Linked DNA regions of Homo sapiens. The protein of the gene in region 3 interacts with the protein of the main gene of each other region in a pairwise test. Each region holds a gene or a part of one and is shown on either strand. Other genes may lie near its edges.

Evidence for each region.
Region 1: the proteins of RAD23B (region 3) and MKRN1 interact in binary tests that used the Homo sapiens proteins (3 or more experiments, as listed by UniProt).
Region 2: the proteins of RAD23B (region 3) and RSC1A1 interact in binary tests that used the Homo sapiens proteins (3 or more experiments, as listed by UniProt).
Region 4: the proteins of RAD23B (region 3) and USP25 interact in binary tests that used the Homo sapiens proteins (3 or more experiments, as listed by UniProt).

What each region holds. Positions count from the first base shown.
Region 1 is NC_000007.14:140,476,490-140,483,793, forward strand, and holds the start of MKRN1 (E3 ubiquitin-protein ligase makorin-1), read right to left. Parts: upstream 3,017-7,304; 5' UTR 2,856-3,016; coding exon 2,671-2,855; intron 2,500-2,670; exon of another isoform or gene 2,348-2,499; intron 2,174-2,347; exon of another isoform or gene 2,111-2,173; intron 1,909-2,110; exon of another isoform or gene 1,890-1,908; intron 1-1,889. UniProt on the Homo sapiens protein: E3 ubiquitin ligase catalyzing the covalent attachment of ubiquitin moieties onto substrate proteins. These substrates include FILIP1, p53/TP53, CDKN1A and TERT.
Region 2 is NC_000001.11:15,655,411-15,662,545, reverse strand, and holds RSC1A1 (regulatory solute carrier protein family 1 member 1), read right to left. Parts: upstream 2,834-7,135; 5' UTR 2,678-2,833; coding exon 824-2,677; 3' UTR 513-823; downstream 1-512. Other genes in the region: DDI2 (protein DDI1 homolog 2), read right to left, coding at 5,913-5,929. UniProt on the Homo sapiens protein: Mediates transcriptional and post-transcriptional regulation of SLC5A1. Inhibits a dynamin and PKC-dependent exocytotic pathway of SLC5A1. Also involved in transcriptional regulation of SLC22A2.
Region 3 is NC_000009.12:107,286,276-107,293,302, forward strand, and holds part of RAD23B (UV excision repair protein RAD23 homolog B), read left to right. Parts: intron 1-7,027. UniProt on the Homo sapiens protein: Multiubiquitin chain receptor involved in modulation of proteasomal degradation. Binds to polyubiquitin chains.
Region 4 is NC_000021.9:15,872,966-15,879,992, reverse strand, and holds part of USP25 (ubiquitin carboxyl-terminal hydrolase 25), read right to left. Parts: intron 5,591-7,027; coding exon 5,467-5,590; intron 2,198-5,466; coding exon 2,002-2,197; intron 1,691-2,001; coding exon 1,518-1,690; 3' UTR 1-1,517. UniProt on the Homo sapiens protein: Deubiquitinating enzyme that hydrolyzes ubiquitin moieties conjugated to substrates and thus, functions in various biological processes including inflammation and immune response.

The DNA.
Region 1 (7,304 bases), on a different chromosome or scaffold from region 3:
GGAAGATACACATGTGTTCTGTTAAGTACTTTGTCTTTGGTAATTTACAAGTTTTGTTTTTTTTTTTTTTAATGAAAGCAGAGGAATCTTACAAAGTTCCTGTTAAAGTGGGTAATTCTAGGTATATGACTTTATCAACATCACTCAAGCATTTACTCAGTATCTGCTCAGGATACTCAGTAACTGAGTATCCTGTTCATGATACTGGAACTGAGGAAAGAAACTGAGGAACTGAGGAAAGAAAGCCCTGCAGATAAAATAGGGCCCTACTCTTCTCAGAGAGCTCAAAGTGAACGATAAGGATCATAGACCGGGTGCGGTGGCTCACGCCTCTAATCCCAGCACTTTGGGAGGCTGAGGCCGGCAGATCACCTGAGGTCGGGAGTTCAAGACCAGCCTGACCAACACGGAGAAAGCCCGTCTCTACTAAAAATACAAAATTAGTCAGGTGGGCATGGTGGTGCACGCCTGTAATCCCAGCTACTAAGGCATCTGTAATGCCAGAGACTGAGGCAGGAGAATCAATTAAACCTGGGAGGCGGGGGTTGTGGTAAGTAGAGATCACACCATTGCACTCCAACCTGGGAAACAAGAGGGAAACTCTGTCTCAAAAAAAAAAAAAAAAAAATGATAGTTGACATTCCTCTATCTAAAGGAGAAAATAGTTTTAAGTAAGAGATCATGTTGGTACCTAGAACAACCGAAAACAATGTCAAACACTAAAACCCCAGACCTATCAAGGAATCTGCACAACAATAAAAAACTGTCTCAAGCAAAAGCTATACAAAAAACCCCCAAAAACTAGTAAATCTAAGCTCTTTCTTTTCTTTCTTTTTCTTTTTTGTTTTTCTTCTGACAGAGTTTCACTTTCGCCCAGGCTGGAGTGAAGTGGTGTGATATTGGCTCACCGCAACCTCTGCCTCCTGGGTTCAAGCAACTCCCTGCCTCAGCCTCCGGAGTAGCTGAGATTACAAGCGCCTGTCACCACGCCCGGCTAATGTTTTTTGTATTTTCAGTAGAGACGGGGTTTCACCATCTTGGCCAGGCTGGTCTTGAGCTCCTGACCTCGTGATCCACCTGCCTTGGCCTCCCAAAGTGCTGGGATTACAGGTGTGAGCCACTGTGCCCGGCCTAATTTTTGTATTCTTAGTAGAGACAGGGTTTCACCATGTTGGCCAGGCTGGTCTCGAACTCCTTACCTCAGGCGATCCGCCCGCCTCAGCCTCCCAAAATGCTGGGATTACAGGCGTGAGCCACCACGCCGACCTAGCCACCCCGACAGGCCGGTTTCAATCTTTTAAAAGATGTAACTAGCACATATAGATCAACTGTAGCATTGTAAAAGGGAAACAGATATTCAAATAATTTGCTCCATGAGTAGAAACTTTAAAATCATCATTCCTGGCAATATTCCACTTTTACAATCCACCGATGAATAAGACAAGTGACCTGAAATTGCGTTTATGCTTTCTACATCCCATTATGTAAAATAATTAAGCTTATCCTTCACACCTTAAATGTATCATATCAAAGGCTGAGAGACCTTCGAAGGTCGCCAGGATAAATGTATCACATCAAAGACTGGGAAGGTTTCAAATTTCACCCTTAATACTACAAGTTCTAATTAGGAATCATTTTTACATACTTGCATATAAATTATACCACCCAGGTGAAAACCGGCATTTCAGTTGATTTATTCAACTGATAGAAAAAGAAAAGCTTACAGTCGCTACTGATCACTATTTAAAAACCGGAAAATAAAAAACGTACAATTAAATGCCCTCTTCTGCGTAGAGCTAGGTAGTTTTTTACAACCATACACATCCATACAACCGCCATCCCTTAATTTTTCTAATATTTTCGTCTCGCATATCAAACCAAAACCAAACCTCTCTCTCTTCCGGGAGCGAAGAGCCCTTTCACTCCCTTCGGAAGATGCGTAAATTTCAAAAGAGGAACATAGCGCTGGGGGAGGGTAATAATCTGCAGCTCAAAAAAACCGCGGGTGGAGAAGACGACCCCGGCCCCCGAACGCCTGCTTCTAAGACAAAGCTCAGCACCGCCAACCTCGACAAACATACAAAGAAGAAATACAAAAGCTTCTTCTCACAGTTGGGCGGAGGATGGGGGGCGGAGGGACGGAGGGACGTGAAAAGACGTTACAAACGGATGGCACGGAGAGAGGAGAGGGCCGGGAGCCAGGCAAGCTCGCTGGGGCCCTCGGCGGGGTGTCTAGGCCCGGAGAGGATCGCTGGGAGACCGGCCTCAAGTGACCACCTCCCGAGCCCCGGGAGCCGGAGGCAGCGGCGGGGGCATCCTTCCAGCGGCAGGGGAGGAGCCAGCCCACCTCTCCCCGATGCGCTCGCAGCCAGCTCAGGCAGCGCTCAGGGAAGTGTAAGCGGCGGTGCAGCCCCGCGGCTCCGCAGTAATCGCGCACCGCCAGGCCTCCGCGGACAGCGCTGAGGGCTCCGCGGCCCAGCGGGGGTTGACGCAGTGACTGGGGGAACGCGGCGGCAGCGGGGGCCGCGAGGGCTGCAGAGATCGAGACAACGCCGGTCCCCGCCCTCCCGCGCCTCTAGCCGCAGGCCGGCCGCCCTCCTCCCTCCCGCGCCGCAGGCTTGGCCCGCGGCCCCCTCCCCGCGCCCGGCGCTCCGCCGCGCAACGTCCTACCTGCAGGTGACCTGTTTAGTCCAGCCGCCGCCGCTGCCGTCGCTGCCGCCGCCCCCTCCGCCCGCCCCCAGGGACGGGGCGGTGACTGTGGGGATCGGGGTGGGGGAGGCTGCTGCCGCCGTCGCCGCTGCCGCTCCTGCTCCTGATGTTGTGGCTGTTGTTCCGGGAGTTGCAGCCTCCGCCATTACTGTTTATCCCACACAGCAAAGGCCCCGGAACTTCCGGGATCACATAGTTCCGGTCCGGCTGCGGGGAGAGGACGGCGAGGCCAGGCGAGGGGAGGGGAAGGACACTGAGGCACCCGTTCGGTCCCCGCCTGCTACGCGTCGCGTATCTGAGCGCTCTCGCCACTTCAACTGCGGGCCCAGAGCATGCGCGCCCGCGGCCCGCCCACGGCGCCGCTCATTGGTGGAGGGGACGTCTCCTCCGGAAAGGGGCGGGGCAAACGGGGGTCTGTACAGGTGTGTCCTAGGCTCGAAACCCCGGCGACGAAAGTCCATAGTTAGCGGCTTTCTTCCTAGCAGAGGCTGATATAGTGGAGCTGGGGCTGGGGACTAGGGACTTGCAGTCGGAAGACCTGGGTTTGAATCTGCACTTTCCCATTTCTCTAGTAATATTTGAGCTAGGTACTTGTTCTATCTGAGCCTCCGTTTCAGCCTCTCTCGAATAAGGATGACAGCAGACCCACATATGGTTGCTGTGAGGATTATATGATGTCCTTAGAAATCACTGAGCTTAGTGCCTGGTACATGGTAAACACTTAATAAAGGTTATCTCATTCCTGGTATCAGAGATGTGATCTTGGCCAAGTATTTTGGCTGAGCAATGCTCTAGAGGGCTGGTCCCCTTATCTCCAGGCTTCCCTTTCTAAGCCATGGGTCTTCTAGCAAATTATCCTACCTCTTGGTGCTCCTGCTTTCTCCTCTGTAAAAACGACAATAATAATAATAATAGGCCAGGCGCGGTGGCTCACGCCTGTAATCCCAGCACTTTGGGAGGCTGAGGTAGGCGAATCACCTGAGGTCATGAGTTCGAGATCAGCCTGGCCAACGTGGTGAAACCCCGTCTTTACTAAAAATACAAAAATTAGCCGGGTGTAGTGGCTAGTCCCAGTTACTCAGGAGGCTGAGGCAGGAGAATTCCTTGAACCCGGGAGGCGGAGGTTGCAGTGAGCCGAGATCGCGCCACTGCACTCCAGCTTGGGCGACAGAATGAAATTCCGTCTCAAAATAATAATAATAGTAATAGATAATAGTACCTACTTCAGAGATGGCTGTGAAAGTTAAATGAGAATCTGTTTAAAAACCTTTGTACTGGCCGGGCGCGGTGGCTCACGCCTGTAATCCCAGCACTTTGGGAGGCCGAGGGGGGCGGATCACCAGGTCAGGAGATTGAGACCATCCTGGCTAACACGGTGAAACCCCGTCTCTACTAAAAAATACAAAAAAATTAGCCGGTCATGATGGCGGGCGCCTGTAGTCCCAGCTACTCCGAGGCTGAGGCAGGAGAATGGAGTGAACCCGGGAGGCGAAGCTTGCAGTGAGCCGAGATCGCGCCACCGCACTCTAGCCACTGCACTGCAGCCTGGGCGACAAAGCTAGACTCCATCTCAAAAAAAAAAAACAAAAAGCAAAAAAAAAAAAAAAAAAACCCCTTTGCATTGTGCTTTTCACACTGCAGTGAATACATAATGAGTAACAAAATATGTCTGGAATATCCTAGCTTTTTTTTTAATGCGTCTTTAAAATTGTATGTATTTAAGGTGTAAAACATTGTTTTAATATACATGTACCTAGTGAAGTGATTACTACAGTCAAGCAGATTTAGCATATCACCTCACATGAATATTTTGTGTATGTGTTTGTGGTAAAAACCCAAGCTCTACTCTTAGCAATTTTCCAGTATACAATACAATATTATCTATTAACATTAATCATAGTCTTCCGCCGGGCACGGTGGCTCACACCTGTAATCCCAGCACTTTGGGGGCCGAGGCGGGCGGATCACAAGGTCAGGAGATCGAGACCATCCTAGCTAACACGGTGAAAGCCCGTCTCTACTCAAAAAACACAAAAAATTAGCTGGGCATAGTGGTGGGTGCCTGTTGTCCCAGCAACTCGGGAGGCTGAGGCAGGAGAATGGCGTGAACCCGGCAGGTGAGGCTTGCAGTGAGCTGAGATCACGCCACTGCCCTCCAGCCTGGGCAAGAGCGAGAGTCCGTCTCAAAAAAAAAAAAAAATCATAGTCTTCATGTGGTACATTAGATCTCTAGACTTATTCATCCTACACAGCTGCAACTTTGTCCCCTTTGACCTGATGTCCCCATTCCCCACTCCACTCCTGGTAAACCACTGTTCTACTCTGTTGCTATGTATTCAACTTTTTCACATCTTCACGTATAAGTGAGATAATGTAGTATTGTTCTTTGTGTCTGGCTTATTTCATTTAGCATAATGTCCTGCAGGTTTATCCATATTGTGGCAAATAAAGGCTACCACACAGGTAGTAACCTTTAGAGACACAATAGGTGGTAAATGTTTCTTTCAGACTTTTCAAGTTGTCAGACTCTCAGTTAATCTCTCTCAGGTCTGGGGAAGGGAGAGCCCGAAAGAAGGCTCTTGTAAATAGAGCCTTCTATTTTAAGGCTGAGAAATAAGGAATATCCTAGCTTCTGAGGATTACTTTTTTTTTTTTTTTTGAGACCGTCTTGCTCTGTCACCAGGCTGGAGTGCAATGGCGCGATCTCGGCTCACTGCAACCTCTGCCTCCCGGGTTTAAGCAATTCTCCTGCCTCAGCCTCCCAAGTAGCTGGGACTACAGACGTGCGCCACCATACCCAGCTAATTTTTGTATTTTTAGTAGAGACAGGCTTTCACCATGTTGGCCAGGCTGGTCTCAATCTCTTGACTTCGTGATCCGCCCGCCTAGGCCTCTCAAAGTGCTAGGATTACAGGTGTGAGCCACCACGCCCGGCCTGGATTACTTCTAAAACTATGAAAAGTAAAGTGTAGTTAATTTTTAATTTTGTTTAGGGATGAGGTCTCACTATATTGGCCAGGCTGGTCTCCAGCACCTGGGCTCAAGTGATGCTCCTGTCTTGGCCTCCCTAAGTGCTGGGATTATAGGCATAAACTACCATGCCGGGCCTCAGAGTGTATTTAATTATTTTTCCCCATAAGGCCTACTGTCCACTCAGATGCAACATATTAAACTCTGAGTTTCCATAGGCAGTTTTTCATAAGCCCTTAAGTTCGACTTTTCTGTAGTCTCTACGTTGAAAGTGAAAATCAGCCTATTAATCATCAGACCCCGATGTGCCCAACACAGGCAAACAAGGAAGGTGGCAAAAACAACAGAAAAGAATGCATCTCCTAAGGCCACACCACAGCAAGATAACTAACAATCCCCTCGAAGGAAACCAAAATATTTCACTTCACCTCAAAATATACACTTCTGGCCAGGCGTGGTGGCTGACGCCTGTAATCCCAGCACTTTGGGAGGCAGAGTTGGGCGGATTGCATGAGGTCAGGAGTTCGAGACCAGCCTAGGCAACATAGAAAAACCCCCGTGTCTACTAAAAATACAAAAATTAGCTGGGCTTGGTGGCGTGTGTCTGTAATCCCAGCCTGGCCAATATAGTGAGACCTTATCTCTAAACAAAATTAAAAATTAACTACACTTTACTTTTCATAGTTTTAGAAGTAATCCAGGCCGGGTGTGGTGGCTCACACCTGTAATCCCAGCACTTTGAGAGGCCTAGGCGGGCGGATCACGAAGTCAAGAGATCGAGACCAGCCTGGCCAACATGGTGAAAACCTGTCTCTACTAAAAATTCAAAAATTAGCTGGGTGTGGTGGCGCACGTCTGTAGTCCCAGCTACTTGGGAGGCTGAGGTAGGAGAATCTCTTGAACCCGGGAGGTGGAGGTTGCAGTGAGCCAAGATCAAGCCACTGCACTCCAACCTGGACACCAGAGTGAGACTCTGTCTCAAAAATAAATAAATTAATTAATTAAACTTCTTTGACGTATTTTAAGATACCACTTCATAATAAAAAAGAAAAAAAACAAATAAGATACCTCTTTGGAAGGGTTGGAAATACAAGAATAGAAGGAAAGCTGTCTTTTGTGGGAAAGATTTGCATCTGCAGAGAAAATCTACACTGAGGCAGCCCGGCTTTCTTTGGAGCCCTCCCTTCCCCAGATCTAGGAAACATTAGCTGAGAGTCTGACAACGTTTGAAGCCTGAAGGAAACATTTACTACCTATTGTGTCTCTGAAGGCTGCTACCTGCATGGTTTCAATGACCTAACAAGACCACTGTGGCTAGCCAGGCTTCTGCTTCTCTCCATCCCATAACTGCTGGCCACCATATGATTTACCCTTATATCCTGTTTTGGGATATGTTCCCCATTCTTTCAGTAACCTCAAGATGGAATATGAGCTTGCCCTCCCCGTTGAGGGGTTGGGATCATCACTCTCTTGTTCTCCCTGTGCACATTAATAAATGTGTATGCCTTTTCATCAATAATCTGCCAGGGTTTTTGTTTGTTTCTTTGTTTGTTTTGTTTGTTTTGAGACAGGGTCTCGCTCTGTTGTGTAGGATTAAGTGCAGTGGTGCAATCTCAGCTCACTGC
Region 2 (7,135 bases), on a different chromosome or scaffold from region 3:
GCCATTATTTTTCCCTCACAGTTCTTGACATCTGCAAATGGAATTATGGTTGTTCTGTTCTTTTAAGAATCTGGGTAGCACCACGTTTCACTTGCATTGTAACTCCCCCACAATATCCCATCCAATGTAATAAGGATTCATGGCAATCCATGCAGCAGCCTGTGATGCACAAAGTAGCCCAAGATTTAAACCCTCCTGCTCGCCCTATTAAAATGTCAAATCCTAAGCACACAAATAAAAACATACCACTCTACGATAAGATATTCAATTATTCTCCAATTTCCTGTTATAATTAATGAATCATGATACACAGAGCACTGGGTAGAATTCCAAACACCAAATTATGTGGTCAAAAGTTTCTAAATTGACAACTGAGCCAGCAAACCATACCTTGCCATCAGCACAGACACACAGTCACAGTGTGGAGAGTTCATCTGTTTTTAGCTGGATGGGTAGTGGGATTTCTCATGGCTTCTGCTTTTCAAAGCATTTACTCTCATTCTAAAACAGTATGCTACACACAAAACCATCCATTTTATTCCAGGATACATCTTAATGAGAATAAAAAGCTTCTGTATGCACATACTGCCAATACATTTAAAAAGGCCTAAATTTTAACAAGTAGGATAGACAAATTCATCAGACAAAAGATCATAAATTACTTTGGCCGAAAAAAATCTTTAAAAAAAATCTGGCTCAACATTCTGCTTGCAGGTTTCTATATATACTGTATATGTGGTGAGTGTGTATGTGTGCGTGTATATAGAGAGAGCTTTCTTTTGTTTAAAGGGAATGGAGAACGGTCTAGCCCACTTTCCCACAGTCATGTAGGAACTACGATGTTTTTTGCGAGCAAAACAAGAAGTGCAAGGTCTGCATTCCCACCAACTCGATGCAAAGCTCCAAGAGCTTCCTGCAAAGTAAAGCCAGCACGGAGAATGCGGTCAATATCTGTGGCAGGAAAAATCAATGGTGGAAGAATGGCAGGACTTGATGATGGATGGCTGGTAGGTGGTTCATATTCAAGTAATGGCCTCGAAGCATCAGGACAGACATTTTCTCTGGTTTCAGGCCTGTCTGTTACTGAATTCTGTATGCCCTGACCTAAGTCTTTAACCAATATGAAATTGGATGACAAAGACTTAGTTTGCTCAGAAGTCTGATTGAGTGCATCCTCCTCACCTGCTAAAAGTTTGGGTGAAATTTCTACACCTAAGGTGCAGTGTAACTGATTGGATGTTTTAGCTGAGGTTACAGTGACAGAACGGTTCTTATTTATGGATTCCCTAGATTTGGGGACACCTTCCTTATCGGTTGACAGGCCATCACCTAGACTCCTGAAGTTTACATTTTCTACAGCTTCTCTTCCAGTGTCAGATGAAGTACCTGTTAATTTTTCTGTCTCCACTGATACAGATATGGCCTGATGAAAGGAGACTTGTGGACACTGTTCATTCTGGGTAAGATGCTCATTTTGGGTCCATCTTTCAGAAAGGTCTTTAATACTGGTTTGGCCCTCAGCTATGGTTTCTGATTGACAGATTACTTCTTCAGATGTATTTTCTGAAGCTGGTTTACTGCTAACAACCAAAAGTTCATGAAGTTCTTTCAAGGCTGCCGTTATAGACGGGCAAGATTCTTCTGCTGACTCCACAGAAGGCTGACAACTGCCACAGAGACTTGGAGAGGAGTAATGGCCATATTCTTTATTTGTTCCAGGTATTTCAACATTAGTTTCTGGGGGCTGTAAATCCTGAGTGGAAATGGAATCATTCAAAATTTCAGATGAAGGGTTACATTTTGATGTTTCTACTTCCATCAAGGGATTATCTAAAGTGAGATCCAATGCACCAATGTTCTTGACATTGGCATTCTGCCTGCCTGTTGAATTAAGCAAAGTAACTAGGGACTGTTGAGCTGTATCGATTTCCATAAATGTTTCTGAATTTGAGCAGCCACTGCATTCTGAAGATGGAATACTTTTCTTCGCACTTGGAGGATCCACATTCTGTGGGAGCCCATTTCCTTTCATCGTAGCTTCCAAATCAACAATTTTGTGTTGATTCTGTTGCCTTTCTTCAGGAAGCTCAAGGTCCCCTATGTTACAAAGATATTCTTGGTCATGTGAAGCTTTTTGTTGTGCAACCTCATACTGTTCATTCCCTGGTTCTTCGTGCTGCTGAGGGTCACTCACTTGACTCAGGTTCTGATTTTCTGGATGCCAATCCTTTTCACCTAGAAACATCTGTGGTTCATGCATCCTAGTAGATGTGACAGATAAACTAGCTTCCTGTCTTGTATGGAGATGAAATTTGAGGCCCTGGGTGCTTCTTTCAGCAGATTTCTCCAGATTACCTGCAACAGTTATTTCTTCGGATGAATTCTGCATAGGCATAGCTGGACTCTGGTCTGTTGGAGCATGGTCTGCTGAGGAAGCATGATCAGAAAGATCTTGTAAAGAAAGATGTTCTTTCTTTTCAGAGTTTAGCTGGAATTCAGCTGAAGCCTTCAAAGCCTTCACAGCTTTAGGTTCAATGCGATCTGAGTCACTGGGCTTGATAGGGCAGACTGAAGCAGAGACAGAGCGAGCAAGACTCATAGGATTACCAACATCAGGACTCTGTCCTGAAGAACGGGCGGGATGGTTAAACCCATCTGAAGTTGGTAATGATGACATTCCCAGTGAGGTAGATTCTTTACCACTTTTCTCTATATGGAACACAGGGGAAAGGAAAAAGATTAATTAGCAGGTGACTAATGCCACTAAATTACCAGAGGATACAAATCTAAACAGCGTAGAATAAAATAAGGTCCTCAAACTCGGGTTTCTCTTACACAAATAGAAATGATTTTAAAATTACTTTCTCATTGTGGTAGACATTCACAGCATCAGAATAAGAGGTAGACATGTTCTTAATAAAATCTGCATACTGTAATTCAATGTGATTAAGTATCCATTAATATGCATTCACATAATGGCGGGGTTAGTGCTCAGGAATGAAGGACATTTATGTTTCTTTATTCCCTAGTCTAGTCTACAACTCTAGAATAGTTTCTCCAAGTGTACTTTTTTCACCACTTGCCCTAAAACCACCAGGGACGCTTGTGAAGTATGCAGACCCTGGGGTACCATACTTGAGAGTAAATCCAGGAATGTGCATTTTCAATAAGCTCCTTGGGTGATTCTTAAGGATATTACAAATCCTGAGAATCTTTGCACCAGAATGATTCTCATGTTAATGCACTTTTCTTGTTTCAAATGTGAACACTGAGGTTACAAATGAGAAGTCTTAAACCAGGTATACCTGGACAGAGAGGGAATTATAAAGAGAAATAAGAAATAACATAATGCTTGGGGACAGAGAAGCAAATGTTCTATTTTATTTCTAGCCAAGCTTTCCAAAAATCATGGTAAAACTGGGTGAGCATCTGACTCAGAAAACAAAAGTAAACTAATGATCAGCAGATTAAATCACAATCATCATCCTACCAAATAATACAACTCTAAACTTAAAAGGCTTATAAGTTTTTATCACATCAATAGTGTGCAACTAAGTTAAGAATATTTAAATGTTTTAAAGAAAGGGGAATGTGGAGGGAGATGGTTCATTAATAGTTTTTCAACTGGCAATGACTATTTAGATTCACTGCTACCTTAGACCACCCAAACAAGACGGCTCAGTGTAAGCATCATAGTATCATTAAACATCATTTCCAGCTCTTCTTTTGCCACCAATCCAGTTAAAAATTGACCTCTACGCATGTAAGTGTAAGAATTTTTTTTTTTTTTTAAGACTGTGTTTTGCTCTTGTTGCCCAGACAGGAGTACAATGGCGCCATCTGAGCTCACCGCAACCTCCGCCTCCCGGGTCCAAGCGATTCTCCTGCCTCAGAGTAGCTGGGATTACATGCATGCGCCACACACCCGACTAATTTTGCATTTTTAGTAGAGATGAGGTTTCTCCACGTTGGTCAGGGTGGTCTCAAACTCTTGACCTCAGGTGATCCGCCCGCCTCAGCCTCCCAAAGTGCTTGGATTACAGGCAAGAGCCACCGCACCCGACCATTGTAAGATCTTTAATTAAAAATCAAAAAGGGCTGGGCACAGTGGCTCATGCCTGTAATCCCAGCACTTTGGGAGGCCGAGGCAGGTGGATCACCTGAGGTCAGGAGTTCGAGACCAGCCTGGCCAACGTGGTGAAACCTCATCTCTACTAAAAATACAAAAATTAGCCAGGCGTGGTGGTGGGTGCCTGTAATCCCAGCTACTAGGTAGGCTGAGGTGGGAGAATTGCTTGAACCCAGGAGGGAGAGGTTGCAGTGAGCCAAGACTGCACCACTGCACTCCAGCCTGGGTGACAGAGTGAAACTCAGTCAAAATAAAAAATAATAATAATAAAAAATAAAAATCAAAAGGTCAGTAACAAAAATGACTTCAAAATACAATCTATTATTAGGACAGATGCAACTCAAATGCTCAGTACTAAATGTTAACATCCAACAAGAGGGCTTGATCTTAAAAAGCAGCAAAGCAGTTATATTCAAAAGGCTTTAAATCATTCTAATAAACTACTGGTTAACAGCATGAGAAGACAAAGCATTGTTTCAGGAAGCTATTGACTTCCCATGAAACAATCTTACCTTACTTACACTTTAGGAGTAAAAAGGAAAACTGCACTTATCTCAGTTTAGGCTATACCCATTAGAGTCTAGAAACACAGTTATTAGTTTTTTTATTTTCATACCACCAGATGTCTAACAGTTATTAGTTTTATTTAAAACTAAGGCTGACTCTGGAAGAGGTTGAATTTTGAACTAATGTTAACAGAAACAATGCACTGTAGTGAAATATCCATGTAAGCAACATAAAGAGGTATGGTAAGGGCCTTCTGGTATTTGTGTGTTAGTTATAAACAAGTGAGGTCAAGGTGAACACACCCTCAATGAATTTTGTACTAAAAAAGTAGCATATAGTCCTCTTGTAGCTGAGAAGGTCAGTTTCACTAGCCTAAGTCCTAAACGTAGGGGAGGACTAGGTCAGTTTACAGAATGACAGGAGAAGAGGATGAGGACAGTGGATATTAAGAATAATTCAACTATGCCTGCTTTTAACCTATCCTTACAAGGAAAAGAAAAAGGAAAGAAAGAAGAGAAACTAAATGCTATGTATCTAATTCCAACCAGCTTGCAAACTCCTACAAAGTCTTATGATGCTGGTTTAAAAGACCATCTTTCCTCCTCTTAGTAAGTCAGCCAATGTATTCGAGCTGATGTTTACCATTATTTACATCAGAGGAAATGGAAGCAGAGTGCTTCCTGAAAATCTGTCAGGCCAGAGACAGAAGGAAAAGCAAAGTCTTAGTTCCTGTTGTTCAGAGTCACCCCTGACAAGTCCTCTGGCCTAAGTTTCCATTTCTTCTTCAACAAAATTAAAATTTCTAACCCTCTATAACTCCAGGTAGTTGTATGCAGTAATGTAAAAGAACAGCTTTCAGTTTTTCAGAGGAAAGGCACTTATGAAACCCATGAAAGCATAGTTATCTCCAACAACAAAGTGTTGTGAGGCCAATATTCTTGATGTGATATTTATAGTAGCCAAGATGGGGTAGATATAATAGACACTGTTTTAACTGGGATTTTCTCCCTGTTGGATGGTTCTAATAACGAATCCATTTTTAAACAGGAGTTTATGTTACATATCCATGTATGCATGCCAAAATACAAATGCATATAGGCTAGTTGTAACCAGATTGAACAAGGTGAAATGGTGAATGACAAATGCTAACTTCCCAAACTGCTGCGGATACAGACTGTCAGATCACAGATGACAACTGGATGGAAGGCTTAACATGGTGTCTATAAATACCTGGTCTGGGGCCCACTCCAGCTGCAGTACACACACACTACATGCATCATGGCTTCTGACGCTCTGTGTGAATTAGGAAACAGACAAGCAAACTTGGGTTAACAATGCAAACCACACAGCATGCAGGGTTATAGTTTCCGTTCTTTTGCCATCTTTAAAATCAGGAACTGGTAGATTCCAAGTTGAGGGATGTTTCTGTAGTTTGGACATCCAAAATATTTGTTGGTTGCTTCCATTCTCTCACAATACACACAGCAATCTGTTAATTTCAACAGATTTTTAATAGATCTTGTAAAGAAATTAATTTTGTTTCTACACATAGAGAATTCACGGGCAAATGTGAGACAGGTGAAGAAAGTAGATCCACCTGATCGAATTAGGTGATTAAAAAAATCTTATGGAGTAAAGGTGAGTGAACATATCTAACAGTCCCTTTCCAAATTTCTTTCTCAGCTGAGATTCAATTTTAGAGGAAAACAAACCACTTAATTAAATTCTATCCTAGCTTATCTTTTCATCAGTTTTTAAATAATACATCAAGCTGAACACAGTGACTCTGGCCTGCAGTCCCAACACTTTGGGAGGTCCAGGAGGGAGAATCCCTTGAGGTCAGGAGTTCAAAATCAGCTGGGGCAACATAGTGAGACACCATCCCTACTATCAAAAACATGTTTTTTTTTTAAAACATTTTAATATAGAGTTTATAATAGAGTATAAAGTATTTAAAAAATAAGCTCTTTTTTTTGTTGTTTTTTTGAGACAGTGTCTCACTGTTGCCTAAGTTGGAGTGCAGTGGTGCAACCACAACTCACTGTAGCCTTGATCTCCCCAGGATCAAGTGATCTTTCCACCTCATCCTCCCAAGTAGCTGGACCACAGGTGCATGCCACCATGCCTGGCTAATTTTTTTTCTTTTTTTTTTTTTTTGAGAAGGAGTCTCACTCTGTTGCCCAGGCTGGAGTGCAGTGGTGCAATCTTGGCTCACTGCAACCTCTGCTTCCCGGCTTCAAGCAATTCTCCTGCCTCAGCCTCCCGAGTAGCTGGGATTACAGGCGCCCACAACCATGCCTGGCTAATTTTTGTATTTTTAGTAGAGATGAGGTTTCACCATGTTGGCCAGGCTGGTCTCAAATTTCTGACCTCAGGTGATCCACCCTTCCTCAGCCTCCCAAAGTGTTGGGATTACAGGCGTGAGTCACTGCGCCCAGCCGTGGTTTTTTTTTTTAGAAACAAGTGTTTTGCCATGCTGCCCAGGCTGGTCTCAAATCC
Region 3 (7,027 bases):
GCTTTGCTGGCAGGACTGGAGGAGTACAGGGACCTGTAGAACGTGGTCTGGGGCTTCTGGGAGCCTTATTGACTTAGTCAAAGCTCATTGGCTATAGAGTAGGGGGATATACAAAATGGAAAGAGCAAGATAATTTGTTTTAAGGTGTTTTTATTTGCCCTAGTTTTAACAAAACTTTCTTAGACTTATTAGGCATTTTGTACCATTTACTTGACTATTACTGTGATACATTACATGACCACTGCCTTTAGTGTTAATCTTTGCAAAGATCTTTTTGTTTCTACAATTGTAATGCAAGCCTTCTTATAAAATATTCAAACAATATAGAAACAAAATGAGAAGGTGGTATGTGTGGGGTAGGGAGACCATTGCTAGGAGATTTTCTTCATTATGTGCTTTTTTTGTTTTTTACTGTAAAAATTGTGGGAGACTTTTAAGTAGCCTACATATTAAAGCATTTTGAGATGTGTGATAGAGCACTGCTTCTCTGAAATTCTTAAAAATTCTGAAGTTTAGGCTGGGTGTGGTGGCTCATGCCTGTAATCCCAGCACTTTGGGAGGCCGAGGTGGGCGGATCACAAGGTCAGGAGATCGAGACCATCCTGGTTAACACGGTGAAACCCCGTCTCTACTAAAAAAAATACAAAAAATTAGACGGACGTGGTGGCATGCACCTGTAGTCCCAGCTACTTGGGAGGCTGAGGCAGGAGAATCGCTTGAACCCAGGAGGCAGAGGTTGCAGTGAGCTGAGATCACTCCATTGCACTCCAGCCTGGGCGACAAAGCGAGACTCCGTCTCAAAAAAAAAAAAAAAAAATTCTGAAGTTTAATGGTGTGATGGACATTTAGAGGGAAATGGAATACAGTTTTTAAGCTCAGTTTTATAGTCAATTAGTGTTTTATATTACTGTTGCTTAAAAACATTAAGAAAGGTAGATTTAGGAATAAACCTTTTGAGATAAAAAAAATACAGTGCAGTATTTTATTGCATCACTGAAATGGTGACAAGAAAAAGTATGTGATATACAAATTAATCCTGCAGTCTAACTCTTGACACTGTTTGCCTTGAACAACTAAAAACAAAACTCAGTAAATTTGAGATGAGACTTTAAATGCAAAAGCTGAAATGTGATTGGATTAGTATATAAGTGACATTAAAATTCTACATATACATTGGATGTTTTTGCTAAGAGAATTGCAAAGACATCAGTTTTAATATCTATAAATAGCATATTAGTGTGCTGTGAAGAATTACCTAATTTCGTGGTTTACCTCTATAATGTGATTGTTATAAAATACTGCTTTACCCAGCACCTTGGGAAGCCGAGGCGGGTGGATCACCTGAGGTCAGGAGTTCCAGACCAGCCTGACCAACATGGTGAAACCTGGTCTCTACTAAAAATAGAAAATTAGCTGGGCATGGTGGTGCATGCCTGTAATCCCAGCCACTTAGGAGGCTGAGGCAGGAGAGTCGCTTGAACCTGGGAGGAGGAGGTTGCAGTGAGCTGAGATCGCACCATTGCACTCCAGCCTGGGTAACAAGAGCGAAACTCCATCTCAAAAAAAAAAAAAAAACAAAAAAACTGTGTGTGTATATTGCTTTAGTACTTGCTCTGTATTATACAGTATTTACTAGCCATCATTTATTAGTGAAGTATTCCTGTGGTGGTTTATTGTATTTTCAATATAGTCATGCTAGATACAATTTCATATTATACAAGCTTCCTAGATTAAGGTAATGAGTAGTAAATGTATTAAAAATACTATATCACAGAGGTGAAATTAAGAGTTCTTGGCATATTGGCAGAACAAGATACAGGAAGAAACTGAGAAATCTGGTACATTTTTGCCAGACTTTTGCTGTTTTGATGCCGTGCACACAGTAGGCATTTAGTAAAGATCTTTGAATGAACTGAATATATTCTTTTGGTGAACTGGCAAAGCAGTGATCCCCCAACGTAGTGTGTTTGCATGTTGATTTATTTATTTAATAAATATTTGCTGTGTACTTACTAGATGTCAGGCCCTGCTGTGATGGTATGTGCATTCTAGTGGGATAAAACTGTCAAAAAATACATTTTAAAAACCAGGTAATGGTAAGTGCTATGCAGAAAGTTGAAATAGGATAAAGTATTTGATAATACTTCACTGGGTGGCTACATTTTTGTTGTTGTTTTGTTTTGTTTTTGAGATGCAGTCTTACTCTGTAGCCCAAGCTGGAGTGCAGTGGCGCCATCTTGGCTCACTGCAGCCTTCGCCTCTGGGGCTCAAGCGATTCTCCTGCCTCAGCCTCCCAAGTAGCTGGGACTAGAGGTGTGCCCCACCACACCTGGTTAATTTTTTTGTATTTTTAGTAGAGACAGGGTTTCATCATGTTGCCCTGGGTGGTCTTGAACTCCTGAGCTCAGGAGATCTGGGTGGCTACTTTTAAATTTACTAGTCACTGAAGGCCTTTCTGAATAAGGTGACATTTAAGCTGAGAGCTGAGTAAAAATGAGCACTCGAGAATGAAGAGAATGTTTTCTATAGGGAACTGCTAGAGCAAAGACCTTTAAGAATGTGTTTTGGGTACTGAAAAAAAGCCTGCATTGCTAAGGTGATGGGTAAGAGATAAGGGTGAGTTGGGTAAGAGATAAGAGAGTGAGTTAGGCAAGTGAGTTAGGCTAGGGGTTTTCAGGGTAAACTTGGAAACATTTACAAGCAGGACAGAAATCTTTGTTTCTTTGTCTCTGTCTCTCTTTTCTCTTTTTCCCTCCCTTCCTCTCTCCCTTCCTCCCTCCCTTCTTCCCTTCCTCCCTCCCTTCCTCCCTCCTTTCCTCCCTTCTTCCCTCCCTCCCTCCCTTCCCCCTTCCCTCTCCTTTCCTCTCCTTCCCTCCTTTCCTCCCTTCCTTCCCCACTCCTTTCCCTTCCTTCCTTCCCTTCCTTTTTCAACAAGGTCTTGCTCTGTCACCCAGGATAGAGTACAGTGGCATGATCATAGCTCACTGCAGCCCCAAACTCCTGGGCTCAAGTGATCCTCCACCCTAAGCCTCCCCAGTAGCTGGGACTACGGGGGCATGCCACCACGCCCAGCTAATTTTAGTTTTTTTTTGTAGGGATGGGGTCTTGATGTTTTATCCAGGCTGGTCTCCAACTTCTAGCCTCAAGTGATCCTCCTGCCTCAGCCTCCTAAAGTGCTGGGATGACAGGCATGAGCCAGCACACCTAGCCAAGAAATATTTCTTGTAGGATTTTTAAAGGTTACTTTGATGCTGTGGGGTGGGCAAGAGTGAAAAGCAGAGACATCAGTTAGGGGGCTTGTGCAGTAGTTTTAAGTAATTGCAGCTTGAACCAGGGCAGTAGGAGTGGAGATGTAGAGAAGTAGATGGAATTAGGATATGTTTTGAGAGGTACAGTTGGCTGTACCACTTGCTGTGTCACCTCAGGCAAGTTACTCAGTATGTGCCTTTTGGTCCTCTGCTGTAAAATGAGAATACTAGTATGAAAGTACTAACTTATTGGTATATGGGTTTTGAAATAATATTAACAGTGCTTGGCAATGTGGTACCACTCTCCCTCCATTGTTCTTGCTTAGAAAGCCTCAAATGTGATTAAATTCAACTCAGTGTTTGTACTTGCACCTGAGTGGCCAGAGATGCACCTTGTAGCCACATTGACTTGTCTTGCTTAAATTTATGAACATTAAGGAACTTAAGTTCATGAGCACTAAGGAACATTAAGGCACACTAAGGAACCTTAATTGGGTCCTTAGTATGCAGCACCTGACAGTCTTACAGTTTACTAGTCCAGTCACTCTTCCACTGCCACAGGATGCTTTCATATCATCTAGCCTGCTTATTTTCACTTGATGACCCTAGTCTTTATTTGATTGAGAATTTGGAAATAATCGAGACAGAATGTCTACAAGGTCCTACCGTAGCTACCTACCTGCTAGCCTCTTCTTACTGTAGATAGTTCTGAATTGTGGGCGGTGCTATCTAAGGCAGGTCCTTCCACTTTTCCACTGTACCTCATCCCCTGTCATGTGTGAAGGACATCACTCCATCAGATCTTTTCTCTTCATCACTGATTTTTCCCATTTCTAGGGTATACAAACATTTTTCCCCATCTTAATGATACACTCCCTTGTGTCCACATCCCTCTTTAGCTGCTGCCCTATTTCCCTGCTTCTCAAGAAAATTCAGGAGTATCTCTTAATTCTGTTTACTTTTTTCCACATCTTGCTCTTTTCAGATCCACCATACTGTTCCTAAAAGGGAGTCCTCACAACTTTGTACTTGTGCTTTGTCCTTAAGCACAATACTTTTAAAAAAGTCTTTCTCCTCTTTATTAAAATGAGAGTAATAATAATTGAACTGCTTTCCTAACAGTTGTGAAAATCAGGTGAGATCATGGGCATGGAAATATTTAGTGAATTGTGAAATTAGAAATAAATTTTGCAGTTTTTAAACAAATCCTGCTTTCATCAGTTTTTATTTCGATCATTTCACTATTCTTTCTTTAAAAGGTTTGTATGAATGAGATATTCTCATTTTCTTAGATTGACATAATCAGCAATTTTGAACAGTGTGTAAAATCAATGAACAAGGTCCTGCCGCGATAGATGCCGTATAGGATTCCAGTTAATTTCTGAAAGAAATTTGCTAAATTTAACCCTACTGTGGCACAGTGAATCGTACGAAGGACACTACACCATCTGTTCCCTGTAAGTTTAGATAAATAAATGTTTTTTATAGTGTCACGAAAGCTAATTTTACAACTGAATGAGCTTTATAAAACTTGTAAACATTGTATAAACTTATTTCGAGGAGGTAGACCAGCTACAAATGACTGACAATACATGAACAGATTCTGGAGGCTTAAACAGGTAGATAAAGTTGTTCTCACCAATTATTCCCCACACACTTCTGGTTGAATTAGGTAGGCACCTTGTTTTTGCTAGTGCACTGGCGAGATCCATTCTTTGCCTATATAGAAACTTACAGGTATCTTGGGAATTCTGCTTACTCAGTTTTCAAATTCCTGTGTTTCTTTTGGTCTTGTTGAAATCATACTGTTAGGAATATATTTTATAATAGATTAAATTGGCATGAATTGGTTGGCTTAATTTCTGTGGGACAAATGGGTTTTGGATTTCAAATCATATATTTAAAATAATAGCCTTTTGGATCATAACCCCAGTTTGAGGATTGCCTTTGTTATAGTGCCTGCCTCTTCTCACATAATTAATGTTATGCTATCAGTTATTGTTTCAATTGTAAAAATCTCCTGTACTAAATTATTTTATTCCTTGGGTCCAGTGAGGAGATTTTTCCTATTTGTACTGAAGTCAGCTGACATTTTTAAAATCAAATTTGTATTTGTAGAAATATCAGGAACCTACCTTGGGACAGAAATTCCCCAGGAAATACTCTGGTGCCTGTACCAGTTTCTCAAGTGGAAGGAGAAGAACCGAAGAACCAAAAAAGAAAAAGCATTACCTGTAGTGTAAACATAAGAAATCCTTTAGTACACATTTGGCTTTGGGAATCTCCTTTATTTTGCTAATTGTTGATTGCCAAAATTTAATTGCTGCTATTATTTTTTAATTAGGCCGTGTAGTATTAGAACTGCCTTAGACCTTTTTCTTTTAAATGAAATCTCTTTTTCTCTTTGAAAGTCCAGTTTTCCCTAAATTACTCAAGTAATTCAGGCTCATTATAGTAAATAAAGTATAGTAAAATGAGAATGGCTTTTGCCATCGGTCTAAGGAACCACTGTAGACTCTGTATATCCCTCTAGTCTTTTCAAAAAATACATTTACACATAATACATGAACACAACTACACTATTTGTTTAAAAAAATTAATTAGCAACTAGCTTTTTTTCCTCAAACATAGTTATAAATATTCATTTATATTGCATAATGTTCAAATGAATTTATGTACATTAATTTATTTTACCATTTCTCCTTTGTGGATGTTTAGGGTGGTTTTCAGTTTTTAGTATTGCAAAAAGCAATGTAGTGCACATACTTTGTACCTTTGTCTTTGAAGTAGTTACATGAGCACCTCTAGCATTGATTTCTAGATGCGAAATTATTTGGTCAAAGTGTGGCAGATTGCCTTTAAAAATGCCTGGTCAGGCTGAGCGCCGTGGCTTATGCCTGTAATCCCAGCACTTTGGGAGGCTGAGGTGGGCGGATCACGAGGTCAGGAGTTCGAGACCCTCCTGGCCAATGTGATGAAACCCTGTCTCTACTAAAAATACAAAAAATTAGCTAGGTGTGGTGGCGTGCACCTGTAGTCTCAGCTACTTGGGAGGCTGAGGCAGGAGAATCGCTTGAACTCGTGAGGTGGAGGTTGCAGTGAGCCAAGATCGTGCCACTACACTCCAGCCTGGTGACAGAGCGAGACTCTGTCAAAAAAAAAAAAAAAAAAAAAAGCCTGGTCAGTACTTACACACATTAACAATACTTGTTATTTACAAATACCATCTCCCATATGAGTAGCCAGGATTCAAATTTAGAGACTCTGCCTCTAGAGCCTGTATGTTTAACCTTTTTATTTCATCTGCCTTAGTGTCCCCATTAGAAAAAGAGGATAATAGTATCTACCTGTGTACTAGTTAACCTATTACTGCATAACAAATTACCCCAAAACTTAATTAGAACAGTAAACACTTACTATTTCATAATTTCTGTGAGTCAGAAATTCAGGGATATTTTAGCTGTGTGGTTCTTACTCAAGAGTCTCAGGAAGTTGGATTTAAGGACTTCATTCTATGCATTAAAGGCTTGACTGGCTGGAGGGTTCCCACTGAAAGTGACTTCCTCACATGGCTAACAGCTTGGTGATGGTTATTGACTGGAGGCCTCAGATCCTCCCCATATGTCCTCATGACATTGTGGCTGGCTTCTCCCAGTGTTAGTGATCCAAGAGAGCAAAATAGAAACGATGGCTTTTATATATAAACCAGCCTCAGAAGTCACACTTTTACTTCAGCAGTATCTTACTGTTCTTGTGGACTAGCCATAATTTAGTATGTG
Region 4 (7,027 bases), on a different chromosome or scaffold from region 3:
AACTTTTAACAGGACTGGAAAACCAATGCAGAAATCTGCTCAGTAGACAACTTAAAATCTAAACCCAAACATATTTTGATAGATACAATATGCAAAATCTAACTTTACAACAGGAATAGTACTAATTCCTTGTCATTAACACCTTACTAGTACATTAATACCTTTACAAACAGCATCATATAATAGCATAATATTTCATCTTACTCCTCCATCCAGGATCTTTTGTGAGAGGCACTAATAAAGAACACTAGTTTTGGCGACGCTGTATCAAACATACACATAGTATAATGGTCTATTTTACTATGTTCACAAAACATCATTTATAAAGAAATTTTTATGAATTCAAAAATAGGTTGTTAGTAACATGATTACCTTTAAAGTATGGATTTTGATTTTCATTCACAATATTAATTCATTAATCTTAAACAGTAGTTTCATCTACAAAATGTTCTACAGCTTTTTCCTTTTTGAAAAGGAATAAAGGCAGTTAAGATACTCATAACTTCTAGTTAAACAACATCAATTTTGTTTCACAGTATTAATTAGTAGAGAACATTTTCAATTAAAGTGATATACAATTTACAAAAATAGAATGATTTATATATTGCAAAACATTGTCCTCCATTATGAAGAATATATATATACATGTGTGTATGTGTATATATGTGTATATATAAATATTTCTTTTAAATTTTACAATAGCCCTTATTCAAGTACTTTGGGATTCTCTTGAAATAATCACCTTGCTGTATATTGTAAATACATTTAAAAAGTAAGATTAATCTAAGAAAAGGATAAAAGTTTCAGTGTAGTTTGACTTAAAAAAAATCAACCACTTACTTGAGTAAAAACCTGACTGAATTCAAAACAGGTTCCGGTGCCATACTAAGTTCAAGAACTTTGTTAAAAATATAGATAAATTTAAGTGTCAAAGACTTAAACATTTTCCAATTTGCTAGCATTAGAGCAGAATTAAAAGATTGTATTAATCTATTAACTATCCAATCTTAATCCCCAGACAAAATTCATTTATCTAGTATTACTAATACACTAATATACAATATACCTGCTTACAAACACATAGGTAGCCATAAATAAAACTTTATTCTTTATTTCATTTACAAGCTACCAAATATTATGTATCGTACACAGTGCTGAACACTTAAATGGCTGTAGTCATGGAAGGATCCAGACTGAATGGAAAGCTGTTGAGAAAGAAAAGATAAAAGCAAAGTAATACTGCAACAGGAAGGTGGCAAAAGCATAGTTTTGCCATAATAAAATCAATTAGATTTGTGATTATACATCAGTTCCGGTTAAAATGTCTGAGCGCCATGCGATTTTCAGCTTTATTGTCTGCAGTCTGACTAAAGTCTGTATAGTCATTTTGTCTTTTGCAGTTATTAAAATAAAAAAAAGTTAAAAACTATAGCAGCAACAAGCAAACCCTGTGACAGGAAGGCAAGGGTTAAGAACTAAAAAGAGTTTATACAGTGTGTTCAGGGAAAGTGTGCAGTTTATCTTCCATCAGCAGGAGTTCGACTGAGGGACAACATGATTCGGGCAAATCGCTCACAGAGTTCATGCGTGGAATATGAAGGTAACTTCGGTGGCTCATGGAAACTTTTAATCTCCATAGAACAATCAAGCAGTTTTGGCAAAAAATCTGTCAGCTTTTCTTGGAGGTGTGCTGCAAATACAAACAATTAAATCTAACTAAAGATAGAAATTATTACACGATCATTGTCAACATGATTTACTAATATTAACTTACTCTAATAGGTAAGATAATTGCCATTTTGGGGAGACAAAAACATAAATGGCAACTGCAATGCACACAGCTTAGTTCATCAATATGGAAAAAGAGTAATCATGTGAATGTGAAAATATTAATACTTAATATTGTATTTAATATAAAAAATGGCAAGAATAAATAACATCTAATTCTAACTGCATTTAATCCGGACATCTCAGGTGCCTACTACCATTGTTTAAACTTACGTTCCATTTCTTGACCAAGGTAGGAACACCATCGATTTCTCATATCTTCTACAGCTAGTATATCCTTTTCTTCCATTTCATCCACCAGTAATAATGGCAAAAATGGGACAATAAACTCATTCATGATAATCAAACCATTGTTTACTTCTCGATCCTCTCCAGATTCGAAGAGTTCTGCGGCTTGCTCATTTAATTTCTTAATGCAATGCAGGAAAAAAAAAAGAATAGGTTTTTGTTTCCTTTTTAAATTAAGGATCTGTAAGTATTAATAAGGAAGACAACATAAATATGTTCACAAACAGTATTAGAACAAACGGTATTTAGAGAAAACAATCTCAACCTATCTAGAACTGAAAATCTCTCTTTAGAAAAAGCTATGCATATGGCAACAACAGAAACAAAAGCAACAGCGGTGGAGAAAACATTATTGTGTTTTTCAGTCATGTTTGGCTTATGCCGATCATCAACACAGGGGCCATTTTTTCTTCTCTAGAGATTAACTTCCCCAAATTATAAAATTGTATAAGCACTCAAAATAGTTTTAAAAATAAAGAAATTCAGAATCCATATTAATTTTTGAAAAACTCATCTCCATTAATGGCAACTGAATATATACTATTGTATTCCTTGATACAGAAATATAAAGGTAATCAATTCACTTTTCCCTTCAAAAACTTCCTACAGAGTCAACACCACGTGCCAGAAATTTCTGCAGATGCAGGGGCACTCAAGTGATTAATACAGAAAACTCTCATGGAGCTTACAATTTGGTACAAGGATTGGCAAACTTTTTCTGTGAAGGGCCAGACGAGGACTATTATAGGCTTTGAAGGCCATGAAGTTTCTGTTGCAACTATTCAACTCTGCCATTGTAGTACAAAGACAATAATACCCAATATATAAATGAATGTGCATGGCTATGTTTCAATAAAACTTATCTATAAAAACAAGTGGTAGGTGGAGCACAAGCCATAGTGTGCTGATCACTGATCTAGTAGAACAGAGAAATCCATGCAATAAGAAACATAAGAGATAAATACAGGTATAAGACCTATAATATTTAAGGGTTCTTATTTAAAATCTTATGTTTACAGCATGATAAACATGACTTTTAAGCTGAATTTCAAATAAAAAAAGTTATATATTTAGATTTACACCACATAATTCTTATGCAATTTATTTTGATTTTGGAAAGATGGTTGTGCTATTAAGTCCAACTTGGCCATGAATCAATTACCCAATTGATATGGTTAGGCTTTGTGTCTCCACCCAAATCTTATCTTGAATTGTAACCCCCAGGTGTTGAGGAAGAGACCTGGTGGGAGGTGATCAGATCATAGGGACAGTTTCCCCAGTGCTGTTCTTGTGACAGGGAGTGAGTCTCATGAGATCTGATGGTTTCATAAGCATCTGGCATTTCCTCTGCTTGCACTTCTCTCTCCTGCCACCATGTGATGAAGGTCCTTGCTTCCCCTTCACCTTCCGCCATCATTTTAAGTTTCCTGAGGCCTCCCCAACCATGTGGAACTGTGAGTCAGTTAAACCTCTTTCCTTTATAAATTACCCAGTCTTGTGTAGTATCTTTATAGCAGTGTGAGAACGGACTAATACACCAATCGTGAACAGATTAGCTAAATCTGTTAGCTTCACTTTCTTTATATTAATAATAGGGTATTTTATCTTCCAACCATAGGGGTTAAGAGAATAAAATGAGATAAATCTTCAAGTATTTACTACAATTTTTGGAAGTATGCATTAAATGATATATAAAATTTAATGACAAGTTTAATGTTAAGTTCACTGAATCAAAGAATGTCCTGGAAATCTCTTAAATAAAACATGTTCAAAGCCAACCTTGTTCCTCCTATTAGACTCCCTAATATTAAACGAAAAACTAGTAAGTTTGGCAGCTTTGACTCTTCCATTTCCTTCTTCCCACTCACCCAACAGCTATGACATGCCGATTTCATTTCCTTCACCATCATACCTACCGTACTACATGAGTTGAGGTCCTCACTCTCCGTCCCTTGACTTTCCCCTCTAAGGTTCTTGACTTCAATCTACTTCTTTCCTGTTCATCCTCTAGAATGCTATTATTATTACCAGAATTATTTTCTGAAAACAAACCTCATTATGCCAAACCTAATCAAACTTACACTGGTGCAAACTCATTTGAATGTCATCTAAGTTTCTTCATCATCTGACATCGACAAGTATTGTCAGCTTCATCACTTCCACCTTACCCCACTTCCTCATAACCTGGATAGCCACAGTGAATTTATCTTGATTTTCTGTTGTGTACTGGAATATTCTCCCTTCTCTATCATGAATAAAACTTCTATTTATCCATCAAGATCCAGACGAGGTTTACCTTGTCTCTTAAGGTTCTTCCCAAATATTTCAGGCATATCATTGTGCATATTTCTCATAATGGCACTTATTCCAGAACAAACAATTATGTCTCCTACCAGACTGAGTTTTCTGAGGACAGGAAGTACATCTTACTCATGTTTGTATCCCTCAGAACCTGACACTTTGTAAATATACAACGTGAAAAAATCTGAAAGGAACACTAAAGTAATCTTGACGAGGTTTCATTTCAATTCCTATGTAAAACAAATAACCAAATGTGGCTGGGTTACTACAAAAAATGATGAGAAACATTATACCATTTTTTGAAGGTTTCAGAGGAACCATCAGGTTTTGGTTCTATGTATGTTTAAAGTCAGCTATACTATTCTTGTACCTGAAAATTCAATTTTTTAAGTTAAACAAATTACTCTAATACATTCTATGTATATTCTTGTTTTTTTGAGACAGAGTCTTGCTCTGTCACCTGGTTGCCAGGATGGAATGCAGTGGCGCGATCTTGGCTCAAGGCAACCTCCACTTCCCAGGTTCATGCGATTCCCCTGCCTCAGCCTCCTGAGTAGTTGAGACTACAGGCGCACACCACCATATCCAGCTAATTTTTGTGTTTGTGTATTTTAGTCGAGATGGGGTTTCACCACGTTGGCCAGGATGGTCTCGATCTCCTGACTTTGTGATCCACCAGCCTCAGCCTTCCAAAGTGCTAGGATTACAGGCATGAGCTGCTGCGCCAGCCTGCATATTCTTATAGACTTACATAAAACATTTTTTAAGGCTTATCTATGCATCCCTTCCTCTCCCACCAAAAAAAGGAGTGGTAGTGTGATGACGAAATCTAAATACAGAAATGTAAACAAACTGATGCTATTTTAAGAACATTTCTCATTTATCACCTATAGTACTTGGGATTCATAAAGAGAAAAGAATAAAGTACTGAGTGTACTTTTCCATCTGAAGGGACTAGAACCAGTTTATAGACATCATCATGTTCTTATCCCCTCAGAGTTTATGGAGTCAATCACTTATATATGAGTCTGGAAAACTTGCCCAATGTCAGACAAAATGATAAGATCATACTATATGCATTCAACTTACTAGCAAACATTCTCTTCTATAATGTGATATCAATTCTTCATCATGTCCTCTGTATAAGCCTTTAGACAAGAGTTCTTTGTTATTCTGATAAGCACAGATGAGGAACAGCAAGGAATCTATATAACTTGAAAATTAAAAAGAAACATATAACATTAGTATTTCACCTTTGTAGAAACAAAGTCAGCTATAATTATGAAACATTTTAAGTATATGCTTAAGTTTTGATAATCTACATTATAATAAAAAATATCATCTGACGCAGTGTATGCTTGAGAGCGCCTTTTTAGCAACAGCAACATCTGAAACCCAGAGATAGTTATCTTAAAAGTAAAAAAAGAAGAGCTATAAATTAAGAAAAAATCTGGGAAAAGAGGCAATAACTGATAAAGTCAGATAGTTCTGTTTTCCTTGGTATTTATTTTCCTGATGTCTTCCATTTAAACTCAAAATTGGAGCTAATGTGAAAGCCAACAATCTAATTGTTTAACGCAATGTCACATTTATATGAAGTAAATGATCACAAACATCATTTGGTTTGTTCAATGACAACTTAGACAGGTTCTTTTCTATGTGCAGACAGTTTTAGTTACTGAGAAAAATGTAAAAAAAAAATAGAAATAAGAATATCTAAAGGAAATAGAGGAAGTGGACAATGAAAGATTTCTTCTAAATCTGGGAAACCTAGTGGAATAAAGCAAAAACAAAAAGCCTGCAAACATAAAAAAGCTGATAGAGGCCGGGTGCGGCGGCTCACACCTGTAATCCCAGCACTTTGGGAGGCTGAGGCAGACGGACCACCTGACGTAGGGAGTTCGAGACCAGCCTGACCAACATGGAGAAACCCCGCCTCTACTAAAAATACAAGATTAGCCGGGCATGGTGACACATGCCTGTAGTCCCAGCTACTCGGCAGGCTGAGGTAGCAGAATCCCGGGAGGTGGAGGGTGAGGTGAGCTGAGATCACGCCACTGCACTCCAGCCTGGGCAACAAGAGCAAAACTCCGTCTCAAAAAAAAAAGAAGTGATAGAATTAGGCATATGTGTTATATTAATGTAAGTCTAGATATTATGAAATTCAAATTAGGTTTTAAAAAGGGAAGAAAAGGGGCCAGGCACAGTCGCTCATGCCTGTAATCCCAATACTTTGGGAGGTGGTGGTGACAGGATCAGCTGAGGCCAGAAGTTCAAGACCTGCCTGGCCAACATAGTTGACACCCCCATCTCTACAAAAACATTAAAAAAAAAAAAATTAGCTGGGCATCGTGGTACATGCCTGTAGTACCAGCTACTCAGGAGGCTGAGGAGGAAGGACTTCTTGAGCTGAGAAGGTAAGAGGTTGTAGTGAGCCATGATCATACCACTGCATTCCAGCCTGCGCAACAGAGCAAGACCCCAACTCAAAAATACAAAACAAAACAAAAATGGAAGAAAAAAATATTTAATAAAGAATTACTTTTACCTCAAAACTATCCTTCTAACATGTCAAAATAAAAACTATATCTAGCCAAGTATTTGTATAACTGAAATAAAAAATATTATTTTAAAATATTTCCTTTGCGTC